Regions from separate parts of the Homo sapiens genome. Here region 2 is linked to region 1. Evidence: fine-mapped QTL for protein levels in blood plasma. A gene starts in region 1. The other region holds a variant in brackets. All regions are shown on one strand. Distances are from middle to middle. Region 1 holds the start of CD109 (CD109 molecule). Region 2 overlaps CD109 (CD109 molecule).

What was found. A credible set is the group of variants that fine-mapping cannot tell apart. PIP is the posterior inclusion probability: the model's chance that the variant is causal. Sun 2018 read protein levels with aptamers (SomaScan).
Region 2: its variant is the best candidate, but not a certain one, in a credible set for the plasma level of the CD109 protein (Sun 2018, PIP 0.53).

What each region holds. Positions count from the first base shown.
Region 1 is chr6:73,687,344-73,697,556 of GRCh38, forward strand. It overlaps CD109 (CD109 molecule), which reads left to right and starts at 8,860. Exons shown (of 33, transcript NM_133493.5): 1 at 8,860-8,946; 2 at 10,057-10,213. The coding sequence starts at 8,873. It overlaps CD109-AS1 (CD109 antisense RNA 1), which reads right to left and starts at 8,788. Exons shown (of 2, transcript NR_110889.1): 1 at 8,489-8,788; 2 at 6,560-8,232. RefSeq lists enhancers at 8,490-8,749, 8,703-9,417 and a silencer at 8,980-9,029.
Region 2 is chr6:73,707,014-73,717,001 of GRCh38, forward strand. All of the region lies in intron 2 of CD109 (CD109 molecule), which reads left to right. Among named protein-coding and RNA genes, the nearest start is that of CD109, 16 kb to the left of the region's middle. The variant C/G (reference allele first, on the strand shown) is at 4,287.

The sequences.
Region 1 (10,213 bases):
CCTCCCTTCAGTCTTTCTTTCCTTCCTCTTTCTTTCTCTTTCTCCTCTCTCTCCTTCCTTCCTTCTTTCACATGCATGCTCTCTCTCTTCCCTTCTTCCTTTCCCCCTCCCCTTCCCTACCCTCCCCTCCCCTCTCCTTCCCTCTCCTCCCCTTCTTTCCTTCCTTCCTTGATAGGCTAATTGTCCTTCATGGAAACATTGTCTTGATGAACAGAACACAGCTTTTGGCAAATTTTGCTAACTGTCTGTGGTAGATTGAATTATTTGTCCCAATTTTCTCCCATCCATATCCTTTCCCACATAATTAAGTTTGCAGTTCCTCTAACCAAAAGGTGGAGTATTCTACCCATCCTTGACTTGGTCCTTGACCATGAAACTTGCTCTGGGCAACAGGATCTTCACAGATGTCAAGTAAACAGGGACCTAAAATGTGCTTGAGCAGTGGGGCTTGTTCTCTTGTGCTTCTACCATGACCGCAAGAAGGACGTGCTTTTCCCAGACTACTGTTCCAAGGAAAAGGAGAAACACAAAGTGGGAACTGCCTCAGCTGGCCTGCAAACTTGGGATCTGAAGCAAAAGTTTATTGTTGGTGTGATTTTGAGGTTGTTTCTTTGCTTATTAATAGATTAATAAGTTTACAAATTGTCCCATTAGGTGAGAAACTCCCAACTGGCATTGGCAGATGTCATCTCAGATTAATGTATCTTCCCCAGATAGTACTTTGCTGTTCAAAATATAGTAATTAAAATCATGCACTAGAAGAACACTAGAAACTTTGTAAGAACTCAAATTAATTGTGATTTCTTTTTGTCTGGTAGATTTTTTTTGGAAAACATACCTTTGCTTTTACTATTTATGATAATATATTAGTATTTTAATTTCTAATTGGCTGTTGTGCAATAAAAAATACACATATTGGTCTCTGCCCCCCAGTCCCTGGCACAGAGTTCTTAAAACTCTTGTAGTTTCCTGAGCAATAGGAGTGCTAGGAGAATCTTTCATTCTAATGTTTGGTTTCTGCTCTGGTTCTTGAAACAGAGTTCTTAATACTCTGTTAGATAGGGGTGCTAGGAGAATCTTTTGTTCTAATATTTGGTCTCTGCTCTGGTTCCTGACACAGAGCTCCAAAGACATTTGTAATTTCCTAAGTGTTAGCATCTGACACAGAGCTCCTAAATCCCTTGGAATTTTCTGTGCGATGAGAGAGTCTTTTGTACTAATGAGGTAACTCTTGGTAGGCTGCTGGATAGAGGCTGGTCACCAGAAAGACCAAGCTATGATTAGAAGCCTGGAACTTCTAGTGCACCCTCATCCTCTGGAGAGGGGAGAAGGGCTGGAAATGGCATTAATAATTATTTCTACTTGATGAAGCTTCCATAAAAATTCCTGGATTATAGGGTTCTGAGAGTTTTTCTTTGTTTTTTTTTTTTTTTTTTTTTTTTTTGAGACAGGGTCTCCTTCTGTCACTCAGGCTGGAGTGCAGCGGTGTAATCAAGCTCACTGCAGCCTCAATCTCCCAGACTCAAGTGATCTTCCTACCTCAGCTTCCTAAGTAGCTGGGACTACAGCCACGCACCACCACATCTGGCTAATTTTTTTGATTTTTAGTAGAGACAAGGTTTTGCTATGTTGCCCAGGCTGGTCTCGAACTCCTGAGCTCAAGCAGTACTCCTGCCTTGGCCTCCCAAAGTGCTGGGATTACAGGCATGAGCCACCAAGCCCAGCTGCTTCTGTTAATTAATTAATTAGTTTATAAATTATTCCATTGGGCGACATCTTTCAACTTCCAAACTAGAATTGGCAGAGGTCATTTATTATACCCTTTATTAATAAACTGGGAAACATAGTTTCCCTGAGTTCTGTGAGCTGCTCTAGCAAATTAACCAAACCCAAGGATGGGATTGTGGGAACCCCAATTTATAGCTGTTGGATCAGAAGCACAGGTCACAACCTGAGTTTGTGATTGGCATCTAAGGTTGGGGGCAGTCTTATGGGAAGGAACCCTCAACCTAGGGGATCTGCTGCTATTTCCAGGTAGTTTGTGTTGGGATTGAATTGACTTAGAGGATGCTCAGCTGAGTCTGCTGTAGAATCTGCCAGAGAATTGATTGCTTGGTCAGCATGGGAGAAGCTCTTCTATGCATTTTGGTGGCCAGTGTGTTATATTGAGTGTATAAAAGTGGGAAAACCACTTTGGTTCAGTTTTTCTTATATCCTTACACTACTTTATAGTCTTAATATGCTTATGACATATTTCTTGATCCAAGAAAACTGTAGACACATTTTTTTTTTTTACTTTATAAGGCTCTTAGTGTCTCAGTCAATGCTTTAATTCTTCATCCCTCTTTGACTTTGTAAGTTTTTGTCATCTGTGCTCTTTTCAAGTATTAACACCATTTACATTGTTTTGTAAACATTGTGTATTTCACATATTTCATCAAATCTAAGATACACCACTTACTTTAATACCAAGAAAGAAAATTTATTGTCAATTATTATTATGATACCATTGATTATAAGATCAGAAATGTTACAAATGTGAAAAACATATATTTTAGAAATGGTGAAACAGTGTAATTAAATCTTCTTTGTCAATTCTTTTATTCTGTTATAAATCAGTAAACCATACTTACATCAACACAACTAATTATTTTTCACTGCAAAGCCAACTAATGAATCATGATATATTCTTTTTTATTCAGTGTTTGCTTTTCCCTTGAATTTCTAAATTCCCTTCCTTTTTACTGCACTATTTTACTTTATCATAGTCTCAGTTTTCTTGTATTTCATTATGTACATCTATTCGATTAAGATCCCTTTTATTTCCCTTAAGAGCTTACTCCTGGAATTTTTCCTATTAGAAGTTCTCTCTTCATTTTTTTCTGGGGTTATATATACATTTCCCTTTTTCTTGGCTTATTTCACTTCGTTGCTAAATATGTCTTCCTAAAGTAACTTCCTAAAATGAATTTGTGAAAGGCGAAGTTTCTGAGCCATTCCATTTCTGAAAATGTTTTTATTCCTTTTGTTTGTTTTATTATGCAGGTGATAAACATTTTTTTTGTTTGTTTTTTTGAGACGGAGTTTCGCTCTTGTTGTCCAGGCTGGAGTGCAGTGGTGTGATCTCGGCTCACCGCAACCTCCGCCTCCCAGGTTCAAGAGATTCTCCTGCCTCAGCCTCCTGAGTAGCTGGGATTACAGGCATGTGCCACCACGCCTTGCTAATTTTGTATTTTTAGTAGATACGGGGTTTCTCCATGTTGGTCAGGCTGGTCTCAAACTCCTGACCTCAGGTGATCTGCCCGCCTCGGCCTCCCAAGTGCTGGGATTACAGGCGTGAGCCACCGTGCCCGGCTGCAGCTGATGAACATTTTATTTAAAAAAGGTTTGTAAAACATGAGGAAATGCTTATGATGGAATAATTAAATGGGAAAAGTAGGACACAAAGCACAAAGTTGTATTATATTTATAACATAATTACTCTTTAAAAAAGATACCAGCAAATTATGTGGAGAAAGAAAGAGAGGAAGGAAACACAACAAAATGAAATAATGCTTGTCTCTGGGTAGTGGTAAGACTGTAGCAGATTTTTTTTTCTCATCATCTTTCTACATTTTGTGTACTGAGCAGCTACTCTACCTGACCTCTCACCCCTTCTCCAGGGGAATAGATAGGGTCACCTTCATGTTTCTGCCGTGTTCCTCCCCTCTTCCCTTTCAGCCACCCACCTGCTCTCTGCTTTCCTGCTCTTCTCCCCGGCCACCAGAACCCACAGGCAATTAACACTTTCTGGACAAAGAAGGAGCCAAGGTTTTCCCCATCATTTTTCTAAAGGCAAAAGTGCATGGCTAGGGAGGGAGACTAGAAAGGCAACTAACTGCTCCCTGCCAGTCCTGGTCTCACCCCTTCCAATGTCCATCTGATTGGGGCCTGGACTCAGGTGGCCCCAGGAAAGCCTCCAGCTGGTGTTATGGACAGAGCAGACTATAAAGGGGAGGTGGGGTACCCCATACACCTGTATTTTTTACTTTCTGAAGCTTGGTTTAGAGTGCTAGGCAGTTGGGAACACTTGTCCATACTGTTACTAATGTGCCAGTTCACTTTGTGGGTTCAGGGCCACAGTCAGGCCTGTAGCTCCTTTAGTTCTCAGAGGCTCTCTTCCTTCAGTTTTTCTGAATTGTGGGCCAAATGTACATGAAGCTCTGGACAAAGGACACCAGCTTCTCCTGCAGGTTACTCATGACATGGAAGTTGGAGGTGGTAAGATGGACATGGGTTCCACTTCTCAATCAGTTTTTCTTTATTCTTACCCACATTTAGCTTTTCTCCCCTGGCTGACTCATAGTTATGTTATGCTGCACACCACACACAGGGGCAATGGTTTGCACAAACTGCCCTACCAGCTCCCATGATTGCTTAGGGTCTGTCTCACTCATAGTGGTTCTGCCTTTCTCATTGAATTACTCTGTTCTTGCATTGCTATAAAGTAACACCTGAGACTGGGTAACTTATAAAGAAAAGAAGTTTAATTGGCTCACAGTTCCACAGGCTATATAGGAAGCATGTCAGCATCTGCTTCTAGGGAGGCCTCAGGGAGCTTTTACTCATGGTCTCAACTTTAACATTGCCAAAGTATGGCAGAAGGGGCTGATGTATGGGCTCGTGGTATCTTACATGGCAGGAGAAGGACCAAAAGAGGTGGGGGGAGGTGCCACATACTTTTAAACAACCAGATCTCATGAAGATTCACTATCGCAAGAACAGCACCACGGGGGAAATCTGCCCCCATGATTCAATCACCTCCTACCAGGCCCCACCTCCGAAATTGGGGATTTGACATAAGATCTGGGCAGGGACACAGATCCAAACCATATCAACACCTTAAAGACAGCTCAGGAGGGACACAGGAACAGTGTGGGGTTCTTATCCAAGAGACCATTAGGTTTTCATGCAATAAGCATAGATGATATTTTTGGTATCAAAATTCAGAAGTTTTATGCAAAAGAGCTTCTAAGATGCCCCCTCAAAAACTATTTACTAAAATAATATTATTATTGTTTTCTTCTTAAAGGAGATATAATATATATTTATTGTAGGAAACTTGGCATATCCAGGTAATCACCAGGATACTGATAATAGCATTTTGGTGAATATCCTTCAAGTCTTTCTTCAGTGCATAGATCTGTAATGTCTATGTACACATAAATACACTTTATTTTTTATAAAAATAAAATGAAATTTAAATTCTGTTTTATAAAACAGACTTCCCCTCTGATATGGTTTGGCTGTGTCCCCACCCAAATCTCATCTTGAATTGCAGCTCTCATAATTCCCACATGTCACGGGAGGGACCCAGTGGGATGTAATTCAATTTTGGGGGTGGGTCTTTCCCATGCTTTTCTTGTGATAGTGAATAAATTTCACGAAATATGATGGTTTTATAAAGGGGAGTTCCCCTACATATGCTCTCTTGCCTGCCACCATGTAAGACTTGACTTTGCTCCACATTCGCCTTCCACCATAATTGTGAGGCCTCCCAGCCATGTGGAACTGTGAATCAATTAAATCTCTTTCCTTTATAAATTACCCAGTCTCAGGTATGTCTTTATTAGCAGGGTGAGAACAGACTAATATACCCTCCTTAATAACATATGAATATTTGTCTCTAGATGGTTAAACAAGCTCCAATTAAACAAATAGTTTTTAATTATTTCAGTATTCCATTGCATGGATATACTGTAATTTATTTAATCCTGTTTTTGTCTGTTTTGTGTTGCTATAAGGTAGTACCCAAGGCTGGGTAATTTATTAAAAAAAAAAGTTTACTTGGCTTACAATTCTGCAGGCTGTTCAAGAAGCATGACATTGGCATTTGCTTGGCTTCTGGTGAGGTCCTCAGGCTGCTTCCACTCATGTGGAAGGGGAAGGGGAGCTAGTGTGCAGAGATCCCATGGTGAGAGAGGAAACAAGAGAAGCAGGAGGTGCCAGGCTCTTTTTAACAACCAATTCTTGTGGGAACTGAGTACTCACTCACCCCCCGACCCCCAGGGAGGACATTCATCTATTCATGAGGATCCACCCACAGAACCCAAACATCTCACATTGTGCTCTACCTCCAACACTGGGGATCAAATTTCAGCATCAGCTTTGGGCGACAAACATCCAAATGACAGCAAACCCAATATCTTATTGTTACATGTTCAGACCATTTTCAGTTTTTCTTTTGAGACAGAGTCTTGCTCTGTCACCCAGACTGGAGTGCAGTGGCACCATCTTGGCTCACTGCAGCCTCCACCTCCTGGGTTCAAGTGATTGTCATGCCACAGCCTCCTGAGTAGCTTTTATTACAGGTATGTGCCACCATGCTGGGCTAATTTTTGTATTTTTAGTAGAGACAGGGTTTCACCATTTTGGCCAGGCTGGTCTTGAACTCCTGCCCTCAAGTGATTTGCCTTCCTCAGCCTCCCAAAATGTTGGGATTACAGGCATAAGCCACCATGCCCGGCCCATTTTCAGTGTTTCTTTTTTCTTTTCTTTCTTTTCTTTTCTTTTTTTTTTTGAGACGGAGTTTTGCTCTTGTTGCCCAGGCTGGAGAGCAATTCTGCGATCTCGGCTCACTGCAACCTCCAACGCCCAGGTTCAAGCAATTCTCTTGCCTCAGTCTCCTGAGTAGCTCGGATTACAGGCATGTGCCACCATCCACACTTGGCTAATTTTGTATTTTTAGTAGAGATGGGGTTTCACAATGTTGGTCAGGTTGGTCTCGAACTCGTGACCTTAGGTGATCCACCCGCCTCGGTCTCCCAAATTACTGGGATTACAGGTGTGAACCACCACGCCTGGCCTCATTTTCAGTTTTTCTTAATAAAAAATCCCACTTCTGAGATGAACATTTTTCATTAATCCTTTTAACACATTTTTATTGAATAGCTACTCTGTGCCAGGCATGTAATAGCCTCATCTCTATGCAAATCCATATGCCTAAATTTTTGCATGACTACGCCTTTCGACAAGTGTGTATTGTGGGAAGGAGGGCATAAACAGGAAGGTGGCATCACTTTAAAATCCACACAGATTTATACAATGTGGTTCTAAGACTTTCTGTAAGTCTTCTCGGGAGGCAACATTATCATCTAATCTTTTGCAGTCCCTCTTATGTTTGCCTACCTCTAGAATGAACCTGAATTTATTAATCCACCTTTATGAAGTGAAAGATTGAGAAGAATTTTCTGTGTTCTTAATTGCCTTTGCTCATCAAATTGCCCCCAAATTGCCCCCACTTGTAGAGTCTCCATGGCCTACTGTCTGCTAAAGTAAAGCAGAATCCCAGTCCTCGTTCCAGACCTGCCAAGTCAGAGTCTGTTTTCATGTGATTCTCACACACATTGGCATGTGAGAAGCACTGAGTTAGACCTTGGTGCTTGGCCCACCCTTGACCATGGTCCTCCTCTCTGAACAACGGAGGTGAGGAGACCAGTAGTAACAGCTGTGTCAGGAACAGGTCAGCACCCAGGGATCCACACAGACACTTTTGACCATTCCTAAGTCCTGCCTGCACAGGAAGTTGGCCACTAAAGATAGGCTGCCTGAAGGAAAGGACATAAGGACCTTTGCAAGCTGTTCAGCAGGGAGAAAAAGGGTGGAACAGGAAAGGGAGGAAAGCAAGTTTCTGGATTCCCCAAACCACAGTTTGTCTAGGTGCTACTTTCTCACTTTTCCTTATTTAGCACATAGCTTTGTCATGAGACATCTTTTTGCTGACCTCTTTTCCGTTTGCATTTTGCCCCATATTAGAATGCTACCATCTAAAACCGCTCCATGAATTAGAAAGTTTAAGTTGTCAGGGACTGAATGTGTCTGTTTTCCAACAGTTTCTGGCAGTTCCCTGCTTTTATGGTGTAGTCATGGTGAAACCTGAGTCATCTGAAGATGGTGGCAGTGCCAGAGAGCAGGAGAGAGGAGCTGCAAAGAAGCCAGACAGCGTTGGGCATCAATAACTCCTGGGCACCACCGGCCACTGGCCTTCATTCTGACAGGAGAGCCAACCCAACCCTAACTGTGTTCAGAGATTGCTCCAAGCTTTACAGTTCTACCAAATTCTTTCTGTAGCAAAAATATAAAGGCATCTTCTTAGGTAATTTTTTTTCAGGGTTCCAAGTAGCAACACCTAACGTCTGCAGTGCGAGTTCTCTTCTTCTTTTTTTTTTTAAGGTGATAAATCATAACATTTTCCTGGAAAGGAAAGCAGTAGACCTCATTTTTTGTTTTAAGGAAAAATAGTTTTTCTGTTTCCATTCATATACATTAAATAACTACCCAGGAAATACGCCCCGGTTTTGCGCGCGTGTGCGTGCGTGTGTGTGTGCGTGTGTGTGTGTGCCGTTTCTCTAAAATTCTGACTCATAGTCTGGAGGACAATGATTGACTTTTTTCCACTTCACATAGTTGCTATGAATTTCTCCTCACAAGGATGGGCCTGTTTACTCACCCTGGGCATCGTTGGTAGAGCGCTAGTGTAAACAGCCTGAGGAACCCGGTGGGCCGGGGAAGTGGGCGCGCTCTGTTCTCCGCGGCCAGCTGGGACGCCGGGCCAGGTGGGGCCGCCTGCGTTTAGCAACTGCTTTCTCACCCCCTGGATTTGCGATGTTTGCCACAGCAGCGAGAAGCGCCATTGTAATGGGGATGGGAGGGGTGGAGCCTCCAAGTCCTGTCTCAATTTAGATCTCTCACTCTGCTGTTAGGCGCGCCCATTTCAGATTACTAAACTCGAATTAAGAGGGAAAAAAAATCAGGGAGGAGGTGGCAAGCCACACCCCACGGTGCCCGCGAACTTCCCCGGCAGCGGACTGTAGCCCAGGCAGACGCCGTCGAGATGCAGGGCCCACCGCTCCTGACCGCCGCCCACCTCCTCTGCGTGTGCACCGCCGCGCTGGCCGTGGCTCCCGGGTAGGAACGTGGGCGCGCGGGGGGCGCGCGGGCGCGCGGGCCTGGGCCGCTCTGCGGCTCTGGGCCAGGGCTTCGGGGAGGTGGCGGCTGCTGTGCAGCAGCGGGTGGGAAATGCCCTCGCGGCTGCAGTCCCCAGCCTGGTACTGGCCTGGAGGTTTGACCATATGTAGCTTCAGCGTGGCTCTCCATGGGACAGTTAACTTTCTCCACTCATGAAGTTGTTTAAGCGTCTCCCCGGCCATAACAACTTTCTGAAGAGAGTCATTTTATTTTTAGTCCACATTGCCTCTGCCTTTTGCTTCTCAACTTTTTGCTCCCAGATTGCGATTCTTCTCTCAAAGACATGATATATTTTTTCTAACCAAGATGTCTCAACCTTAGCATTGCCAAAGTGTGGCGGAGGGGACTGATGTATGGGTTCAGGGGCAGACATTATAGGAAGAAAACAACAGCACCCAATAATGGCAAGCCCCATTCATTCCTAAAGATTTCTGTAGTTGAGCCCTAACCCCTAGTTATAGCAGAGAAAGTGCTGCTTTAGTGACTTCTTTTATGATTCGCTATACCTGGAATTTTCACCAGTTGTAGTTTATTTTCAAATGGTATATTTCAATCAATGGTATTGGTTAAATAATTTTTTACCCTCGTTGGGCAGCTACTCAAGGATAAAGGTTTGAATAAGAAACAGGCAAAATCTTAGTTAAAAAATAACAACAACAACAAGAAAATAATCACGCTGGGATAAGGTCCTCTGTAAAGGAGAAGCTTAGAGACTTTTGCTTTGCCAATAACTCCATTATGCCCCGGTGCAAGCCATTTACATCATGGTTCCTTCTGTGCGGTTCGTGGTTTATAAAATGGAAATAATAACACAGGCCTTCCTCTAGTAGTGATGCATGAATTACTGCATTAAAATTGATTTATGGGAATTATTGTTGTTTCAGTAGCATTTCAATTCAGTTGCCAAATAGAGCAGTGGGCAATGTTAACGGAAACAACTGCAATTGGCGCAGTATGGAGTGCCTATCGCACTAGGAAATCTGAGGGTCACAAAAGAAAGGAGATGTGAGGATAAGAAACTTTGTTTTTCCCTTGTTGGGAACTCTTTAGGCCTCGGTTTCTGGTGACAGCCCCAGGGATCATCAGGCCCGGAGGAAATGTGACTATTGGGGTGGAGCTTCTGGAACACTGCCCTTCACAGGTGACTGTGAAGGCGGAGCTGCTCAAGACAGCATCAAACCTCACTGTCTCTGTCCTGGAAGCAGAA
Region 2 (9,988 bases), 20 kb after region 1:
CATAAATATTTGGTGACCACATGAGGTTCCTGTGCCTGTGCTCTTCGCAGGGAAGCAGAGTAGGCTTCATTTGATGTGTCCTCCCACGTTGATTATAGAGGCTTGTTCGGGTGCCGTGTTGACAGTTTCAAAGTCAAGCGTGGGTTTACTGGACTAGAGAACTGGATGAATTAGCTGTGTCTGCCATGGCCATGGGAGTTGGGGAGTGTGGTATGAATGCTGCGAAGGATTCTGTAGCCCATCCATAAACTTTATTTATGGATCAGTTGAAGAGGAATGGTCTAAGAGGAACGGTTATCTACGTAGCTACATAGGGGCTTGAGGTAGTAACAACATGGATAAGAGAGAACAGACGAAAGAGTGGGTGTATCCAAATAGTAAATGAGAGTGGAGTAAGCTACAGAGGAGGAACAAGGAGGGAAGGGATATGAGGTTATGTTTGCACTACTGTTTTGGAAGGAATAGCTGGGTCTGTCCTGCACTGTTTGGGAGGCACAGTGGGTTAGAATGGGTGCTCAGGAACCACACTGAAATTGAACCCTAGCATCACCTAATAGTAGTACCCACCTCGTAGCATTGTTGAGAGGATTAAATGAGATAATACTTAAGAGCTGTATCATCCAATATGGTAGCTACTAACCACATGTGGTTTTTGAGCACTTGAAATGTGGCTCATACAAATTGAGATGTGCCAGGAGTATAAAATACATAATGGATTTTGAATACTTAGTTCCAAGAAATGCAATAAAACTTATGATTTTAAAATAATGATTTCATGTTCAATGTTAATATTTTGGACATATTGAGTTAAATAAAATATGTTATTAAAAGTAATGTCACCCAATTTTTTCTTTTTTTGGCACATAAAAGACACCTAATTTAATAAATATTAGTTATTATTTTCTCTTTTATTATGCAGTTAAGAACTTTGATTTAAAATTGTTATCTTTATATATATATATATATATATATATATATATATATATATATATATATTTATTATACTTTATGTCCTAGGGTACATGTGCACAACATGCAGGTTTGTTACATATGTATACATGTGCCATGTTGGTGTGCTGCACCCATTAACGCGTCACTTACATTAGGTGTATCTCCTAATACTATCCCTTCCCCCTTCCCCCATCCCACGACAGGCCCCGGTGTGTGATGTTCCCCGTCCTGTGTCCAAGTGTTCTCATTGTTCAATTCCCACCTATGAGTGAGAACATGCGGTGTTTGGTTTTTTGTCCTTGCGATAGTTTGCTGAGAATGATGGTTTCCAGCTTCATCCATGTCCCTACAAAGGACATGAACTCATCATTTTTTATGGCTGCATTGTATTCCATGGTGTATATGTGCCACAATTTCTTAATCCAGTCTGTTGTTGTTGGACATTTGGGTTGGTTCCAAGTCTTTGCTATTGTGAATAATGCCTCAATAAACATACGTGTGCATGTGTCTTTATAGCAGCATGATTTATAGTCCTTTGGGTATATACCCAGTAATGGGATGGCTGGGTCAAATGGTATTTCTAGTTATAGATCCCTGAGGAATCACCACCCTGTCTTCCACAATGGTTGAACTAGTTTACAGTCCCACCAACAGTGTAAAAGTGTTCCTATTTCTCCACATCCTCTCCAGTACCTGTTGTTTCCTGACTTTTTAATGATCGCCATTCTAACTGGTGTGAGATGGTATCTCATTGTGGTTTTGATTTGCATTTCTCTGATGGCCAGTGATGATGAGCATTTTTCCATGTGTTTTTTGGCTGCACAAATGTCTTCTTTTGAGAAGTGTGTGTTCATATCCTTTGCCCACTTGTTGATGGGGTTGTTTGTTTTTTTTCTTGTAAATTTGTTTGACTTCTTTGTAGATTCTGGATATTAGCCCTTTGTCAGATGAGTAGGTTGCAAAAATGTTCTCCCATTCTGTAGGCTGCCTGTTCACTCTGATGGTAGTTTCTTTTGCTGTGCAGAAGCTCTTTAGTTTAATTAGATCCCATTTGTCAATTTTGGCTTTTGTTGCTATTGCTTTTGGTGTTTTAGACATGAAGTCCTTCCCCATGCCTGTGTCCTGAATGGTATTGCCTAGGTTTTCTTCTAGGGTTTTTATGGTTTTAGGTCTAACATTTAAGTCTTTAATCCATCTTGAATTAATTTTTGTATAAGGTGTAAGGAAGGGATCCAGTTTCAGCTTTCTACATATGGCTAGCCAGTTTTCCCAGCACCATTTATTAAATAGGGAATCCTTTCCCCATTTCTTGTTTGTGTCAGGTTTGTCAAAGATCAGATAGTTGTAGATGTGTGGCATTATTTCTGAGGGCTCTATTGTGTTCCATTGGTCTATATCTCTGTTTTGGTACCAGTACCATGCTGTTTTGGTTACTGTAGCCTCGTAGTATAGTTTGAAGTCAGGTAGCATGATGCCTCCAGCTTTGTTCTTTTGGCTTAGGATTGACTTGGCAATGTGAGTTGTTTTTTGGTTCCGTATGAACTTTAAAGTAGTTTTTTCCAGTTCTGTGAAGAAAGTCATTGGTAGCTTGATGGGGATGGCATTGAATCTATAAATTACCTTGGGCAGTATGGCCATTTTCCTGATACCAAAGCCTGGCAGAGACACAACAAAAAAAGAGAATTTTAGGCCAATATCCCTGATGAACATCGATGCAAAAATCTTCAATAAAATACCGGCAAACCAAATCCAGCAGCACATCAAAAAGCTTATCCACCATGATCAAGTGGGCTTCATCCCTGGGATGCAAGGCTGGTTCAACATATGAAAATCAATAAACGTAATCCAGCATATAAACAGAACCAAAGACAAAAACCACATGATTATCTCAACAGATGCAGAAAAGGCCTTTGACAAAATTCAACAGCGCTTCATGCTAAAAACTCTCAATAAATTAGGTATTGATGGGACATATCTAAAAATAATAAGAGCTATTCATGACAAACCCACAGCCAATATCATACTGAATGGGCAAAAACTGGAAGCATTCCCTTTGAAAACTGGCACAAGACAGGGATGTCCTCTCTCACCACTCCTATTCAACATAGTGTTGGAGGTTCTGGCTAGGGCAATCAGGCAGGAGAAAGAAATAAAAGGTATTCAATTAGGAAAAGAGGAAGTCAAATTGTCCCTGTTTGTAGATGACATGATTGTATATCTAGAAAACCCCATTGTCTCAGCCCAAAATCTCCTTAAGCTGATAAGCAACTTCAGCAAAGTCTCAGGATACAAAATCAATGTGCAAAAATCACCAGCATTCTTATACACCAATAACAGACAAACAGAGAGCCAAATCATGAGTGAACTCCCATTCACAATTGCTTCAAAGAGAATAAAATACCTAGGAATCCAACTTACAAGGGATGTGAAGGACCTCTTCAAGGAGAACTACAAACCACTGCTCAACGAAATAAAGGAGGACACAAACAAATGGAAGAACATTCCATGCTCATGGGTAGGAAGAATCAATATCTTGAAAATGGCCATACTGCCCAATTTTTTCTATTTTTTTTTTAGTGCACATCTTTAAAACATTTATCACAATGCTTGGTACATAGAAGACACCGAGGGAATGTTAACTATGTTGTACCTGGTGTTTCTCAGTATCAGATATTAATACTGATGCCTGACCACAAGCCTGTGGCATGAGTCCAAGTCTCCCTGCTGATGACTCATTTTGGCTTAGGTAGATCTTCACCCTTATCCCTTATCCCTTGAGGAAGAAGAAAATCTCCCTAAAGAGAGCCACAGGGGTCGGCAAAATTTCTGTAAAGGGCCAGATGTTAAGCATGTAGGTTTTGCCAACCTTCAGGTCTTTATTACAGCTGCTCAACTCTGCCTTTATAGCTCGGAAGCAGCTGTAGACGGTTCATAAACAAAAGAGCATGGTTGTGTACCAGCAGAACTTTATTTATGGATGCTGAAATTTTGAGTTCATATAATTTTTACTTATCATGAAATATTCTTCTTCTTTTGATATTCCCCCCAGCTATTTAGAAATGCAAACCCATTCTTAGTTCATGAACTGTACAAAAAACAGGCGTGGGCCAGACTGGATCTGTAGGCTGTGGATTGCTGACCCTGCCATTAAAAATGCCCTGTACATTTAGCAGCCAAGAACCTTGCTTGACTCTGGGTTTTTCATTTGTACTTAACCTAACATTTGCTTTATAGTGTACCATTTTATTTATTTTACTTTTAGTAGGTTTGTGTTTGACCTGCTTTTTTTTTTACTCAATGTTTGTGTTTAACCTGCTTTTTTTTAGACAATGGAA[C/G]AAAACTTTGTTTATGAAACTCAAATTTATTAAGATATTTGTAAGCAAAGGGAAATAAGAGAGAAAAATATAAAAGGAGTATGTAAGGGACCAAAGGAGATTTTTTGTTTGGTTTTGTTCTGCTCAGAATACTTGTGTTTTCTGTGTAGACTGAATTTACCCAATAGTTTTTTTGCCTTAAAGTGACATTAAACTGTGAAGCAGAAACATTGTATTTTTAAAATCGTACTTTAAGTTTTTTTTTTTTTTTTTGAGACGGAGTCTCGCTCTGTCGCCCAGGCTGGAGTGCAGTGGCGGGATCTCGGCTCACTGCAAGCTCCGCCTCCCGGGTTCACGCCATTCTCCTGCCTCAGCCTCCCAAGTAGCTGGGACTACAGGCGCCCGCCACTACGCCCGGCTAATTTTTTTTTTGTATTTTTAGTAGAGACGGGGTTTCACCGTTTTAGCCGGGATGGTCTCGATCTCTTGACCTCGTGATCCGCCCGCCTCGGCCTCCCAAAGTGCTGGGATTACAGGCGTGAGCCACCGCGCCCGGCCTAAGTTTTTAAAATATTTTATTTTTATAGATTTAGGGGGTACATGTGCAGTTTTCTTACATGGATATTTTGGGTAGTGGTGGAGTCTGGGCTTTTAGTATAAACATCAGCCAAATAGTGTATGTTGTATCCATTAAGTCATTTCTTATCCCTTACCTCCCTGCCATATGAATCTCCAATGTCTATTATTTCACTCTCTAAAAAATATTGTATTTTATACAAAAATTAGCCGGGTATGGTGGCGCATGCCTCTAATCCCAGCTACTGGGGGGCTGAGGCAGGAGGATTGCTTGAACCTGGAAAGCGGAGGTTGTAGTGAGCCGAGATCATGCCACTGCACTCCAGCCTGGGCAACGAAGCGAGACTCCGTCTCAAAAAAAAAAAAATTGTATTTTAAAGTTTTGTTTTCCATGAATTTGTGGGGGGAAAACCCTTATTTCTTACCTTATCTGTTGATCAAAGAAACTGCTGAAGAATGAGGAAAAAAATTTAGTAACTTGATAAAGAGATCAAAATTTTCAGCTAAAAAAGTGATAATAAATTTATTATTGCATAAGACTGAGTAGCAAAAGGCTGCCAAAAATAATTAAGCAGCAAACACTAAGTCAGGCATATATATATATCTAGTGGAAAATCCACTTTTTTTTTCATAGAGAGTATTTCTGTACCTAGTTGGATTTCCGGTTACACACTACTCCTTCCCTTCAATGATTTTCCAAAGTTATTTGGTGAGGACAGATGTCAGAAGAGGCAGCATATAATGGTATTACAGAGTATGTTTAAAAAGTTAAGGAAAGGTTAGTTTTTGTGTATGCTTATTACACAATTTAAAAATAGCTTTGACTCTATTTGTAAATCAAATGGCCAGTTCTCAGGCTGTGCCAAATGCGAAGCCTTCAAACAAGGTTTCTTCTGAGTTGCTTAAGCAGCCCTGGGAAGGAGAAAGCATCTGAAAGGGTTTTCAGATTGATTGTCTCTGGTTATACACAGAAATGATTGGAGTTTTATAAAGTTATCTATAAAAACACTAAGAAGAACCTTACATAACAGAGTGTGTCTTTAGTTAGTGATTTAAAAGAGTGCCATACTGGGTTTCAAGAGGTGGTGACCATTTCCCGTGTCTGAATGGAGCCTCGCCAAAAGGGAGAAAAATGTTCACAACAGTTTGCAAATACTATCTATTTAATTCTCAACCTAGCAACAGCAGAGAAAGAGATTATTATTCCTCTCTCATCTATGCTGCCCCCACTCTCCTCCCCGCTGCCCCCGATTTTATGTTTTGGTTGTGTAAATTATTGCTAAATGAATAGAACTTTCAAATAAGTCCTATGCTAGGACTTCATAAGTGCCTAGGAAATTCCAAGCTGTATTTGTAAATTTAAAGGGAAGATCAGCAGAAAAAAATGTCAAGTACTTAAAATCGACTTTTTATTAAGGACGCATGAGACCAGTGAGTAGGCCTTAGATTGGATGTGTCCACATATCCTCTGAGTCGCTCCCTGGATCCAGCAAGAAATAGGGGTGGGTGGGACATCTTTGTCCCTACACCATAGCGTTGGGGAAGAGTCTTTGTATTTTGTATTTTTATTTTTTTTTTAATAGAGATGGGGTCACACGATGTTGCCCAGGCTGGTCTTGAACTCCTTGCCTCAAGGGATCCTTCTGCCTCAGCCCTCCCAAAGTGCTGGTATTATAGGCGTGAGCTGCCACACCTGGCCTGGGTAGGACTTCTGTTTCTAGCTCTGTATCTTTCTTGCATCTGTGAACAGATAAGGTCATGTGTCTGAGCAGTAGGACCCAGGCATGCAGTTGAACTGCTCGTCCAACTTCTCTCTGGTGAGAGAATTCCTCAAAGATTTGACTTCATTCAGAGCTGCATTAAAAACAAAAGACAAAACAAAAAACACTTCTACTATGAAATGAGATTTCCTGCACTTCAAATCTGTTTAGCTTGTTTTGAAGTGCCAGAATGCTTGGCCTCCAATTAGTCAATCTCCGAGAGCCTCATTTGGATTGTAGACTCCCAACTGTTTTTTTACTTTCTCCTTGCTGATGTCATTGGATAAAAATAAATTACCACCCCTCCCCCGTCGTTCTTCATCTTTGTAAATTTGCTGCCGGTGGGTGGTAGCTGGTATCAGACCAGGGCAGGAAGGAAGCACATTGCTTCCTCCAGTTATGGAGCTAGCATAATAGTCAACCCCTGATGATTTATCTTAATACAATGAAAAATAAGTAACTCTCAATAATGGAGGGTGCTGGTTTGTTGGGGCGAAGCTCACTGCAGTTTGTTTCTATTTTATTCCAATGTGGGACATTGTGGTGGATGCTGTGTTTTAGGGCCCAGATCGCTCTTTAGGGATGAAGGACTTTTTCCCGAAAGCTGCTAGGAGTGTTGTGCCCGACTGCCTTCAGAGCCAGTTGTCTCTGATGATCGTATCAGCTAGAGAATTGCCTTGCCCATGGTGGCCTCCCTCCTGGGGATGGCCTGTATTATGTGACTGATTGACGTGGGGTATGAAGGTCTGGCCCTTTCGCCCCAGTTCAGGACAACTCTCACTGGCCCTGACTGCTTCTGAGCTGCCCTGGTGGATGCCTCTTTGGAGCCTGCATTGCAGCCCCACTGCTCTCTCCCCTAGTGCAGTTTCCCCCTTTCCCTTCTGCAGGTGCTGATCCACCGAATACTCCTTAGTAAACCTCCTGCATTGTAATTACCGTCTCAGAGTTGGCTACTGTTTAACTTTCCTTTGAAGAGGAATGTTTCAGATCTTGGAATCAACTTCAAACATGTCAAAACTGTGTAGTGTGAAGAATTGACATGAGTTGGGAAAGTCTTTCGTTTTTATATCCTTTTCAGAGTTCTTGTATGACACAAAATATTTTAGAGTTAGCTCCGCTACTGCAGTGCTTGGAGTATAACTCTAAGTTTCTTCTAAGAGAAACTTCATGGAAGAAGAATCCACAGGTTTTGGTGAGTGATAAACTTAGAGTTGAGGAGAGAAAAGAGTTCAAGATGATTGAGATTTTGAACATCCATGATTGAGGAAGTGGTGATAGCAACATATACAAACAGGCTATACAGGCAGTGGAACTTTTACTATAATCAAAGATATGTATAATGAAAACAATGGTGAGGCACAAGGCTGGGTCCAGTGGCTCACGCCTGTAATCCCAGCACTTTGGGAGGCTGAGGCGGGCAGATCACTTGAGGTCAGGAGTTCGAGACCAGCCTGGCCAACATGGCACAACCCTGTCTCTACTAAAAACACAAAAAATTAGCCAGCTGTGATGGTGCTTGCCTGTAGTCCCAGCTACATGGGAGGCTGAGGCATGAGAATCTCTTGAACCCGGGAGGTGGAGGTTGCAGTGAGCTGAGATCGTGCCACTGCACTCCAGCCTGGGTGACAGAGCAAGACTCTGTCTCAAAAACAAACAAAAAACCAGTGATGAGGCACGGTGACTCACATCTGTAATCCTAGGGCCTTGGGAAGTCAAGGTGGGAGGATCACTCGAGCCTAGGAGTTTGAGAGCAGCCTGGGCAACATAATGAGCCCCCATTTCTACAAAAAAGTAAAAAAAATTAGCCAGGCATGGTGGCCTGTGCTTGTAGTCCTAGTTACTGGGGAGGCTGAGGCAGGAAGATCGCTTGAGTCCAGGAGTTTGGGGTGGCAGTGAGCTATGATTGCACCACTGTACTCCAGCCTGGGTGACAGAGTGAGACCCTGTCTCCAAAAAAAAAAAAAAAAAAGGTATGTATAATAAAACCAACTATACAACTGATTCTTTTTTTAATTTTTAATTGTTGTGGATACATAGAAGATGTATATATTTACAGGGTACATGAGATACTTTGAAACAGGCATGCAATGTCAACAACCACATCATAGTAACTGGGGTATCCGTTCCCTCAAGCATTTGTCCTTTGTGTTACAAACAATCCAGTTATACTATTTTAGTTATTTAAAAATGTACAATCAAATTGTTATTGACTACAGTCCTCCTGTTGTGCTATCAAATACTAGGTCTTATTCATTTTTCTAACTATTTTTTGTGCCCATTAACCATCCTCACTTGCTCCCTAACCCTTCACTACTCTCCCTAGCCTCTGGTAACCATCCTTCTACACTCTTATCTCCATTATTAGTTAAATTGTTTTAATTTTTAGCTACCACAAATAAGTGAGAACATGCAAAGTTTGTCTTTCTGTGTTTGGGTTATTTCACTTAACATAATGACCTTCAGTTCCATCCATGTTGTTGCAAATGACAGGATCTCATTCATTTTTATGGCTGAGTAGTACTTAATTGTGTACATGTACCACATTTTCTTTATCCATTCATTTGTTGATGGACACTTAGGTTGCTTCCAAATCTTAGCTATTATGAACAGTGGTGTAACAAACATGGGAGTGCAGATAGCTCTTTGATATACTGATTTCCTTTCTTTTGGGTATATACTCAGCAGTGGGATTGCTAGATTGTATGGTAGCTCTATTTTTAGTTTTATGAGGAACCTCCAAACTGTTCTCCATAGTGGTTGTGCTAATTTTCATTTCCATCAACAGTGTATGAGGGTTCCCTTTCCTCCACATCCTCATCAGCATTTGTTACTGCCTGTCTTTTGGATAAAAGCCATTTTAACTGGGGCGAGATGATATCTCATTGTAGTTTTGATTTGCATTTCTCTAATGATCAATGGTGTTGAGAGGGCCTTTTCATATACCTGTTTGCCATTTGTATGTCTTCTTTCGAGAAATGTCTATTCAGATCGTTTTCCCATTTTTAATTGGATTATTAGATTTTTTCCTGTAGAGTTATTTGAGTTCCTTATGTGTTTTGGTTATTAATCCCTTGTGAGATGAGTAGTTACAAAGATTTTCTCTCATTCTGAGTTGTATCTTCATTTTGTTGATTGTTTCCTTTATTGCGCAGAAGCTTTTTAACTTGACGTGATCCCATTTGTCGATTTTTGCTTTGGTTGCCTGTGCTTGTGGGATATTGCTCAAGAAATCTTTGCCCAGTTCAGTGTCCTGGAGAGTCCCTCCAAAGTTTTCTTTTAGTAGTTTCACAGTTTTAGGTTTTAGGTTTAAGTCTTTAATCCATTTTGATTTGATTTTAGTGTATGGTGAGAGACAGGGTCTAGTTTCATTCTTCTGCATATGTACAT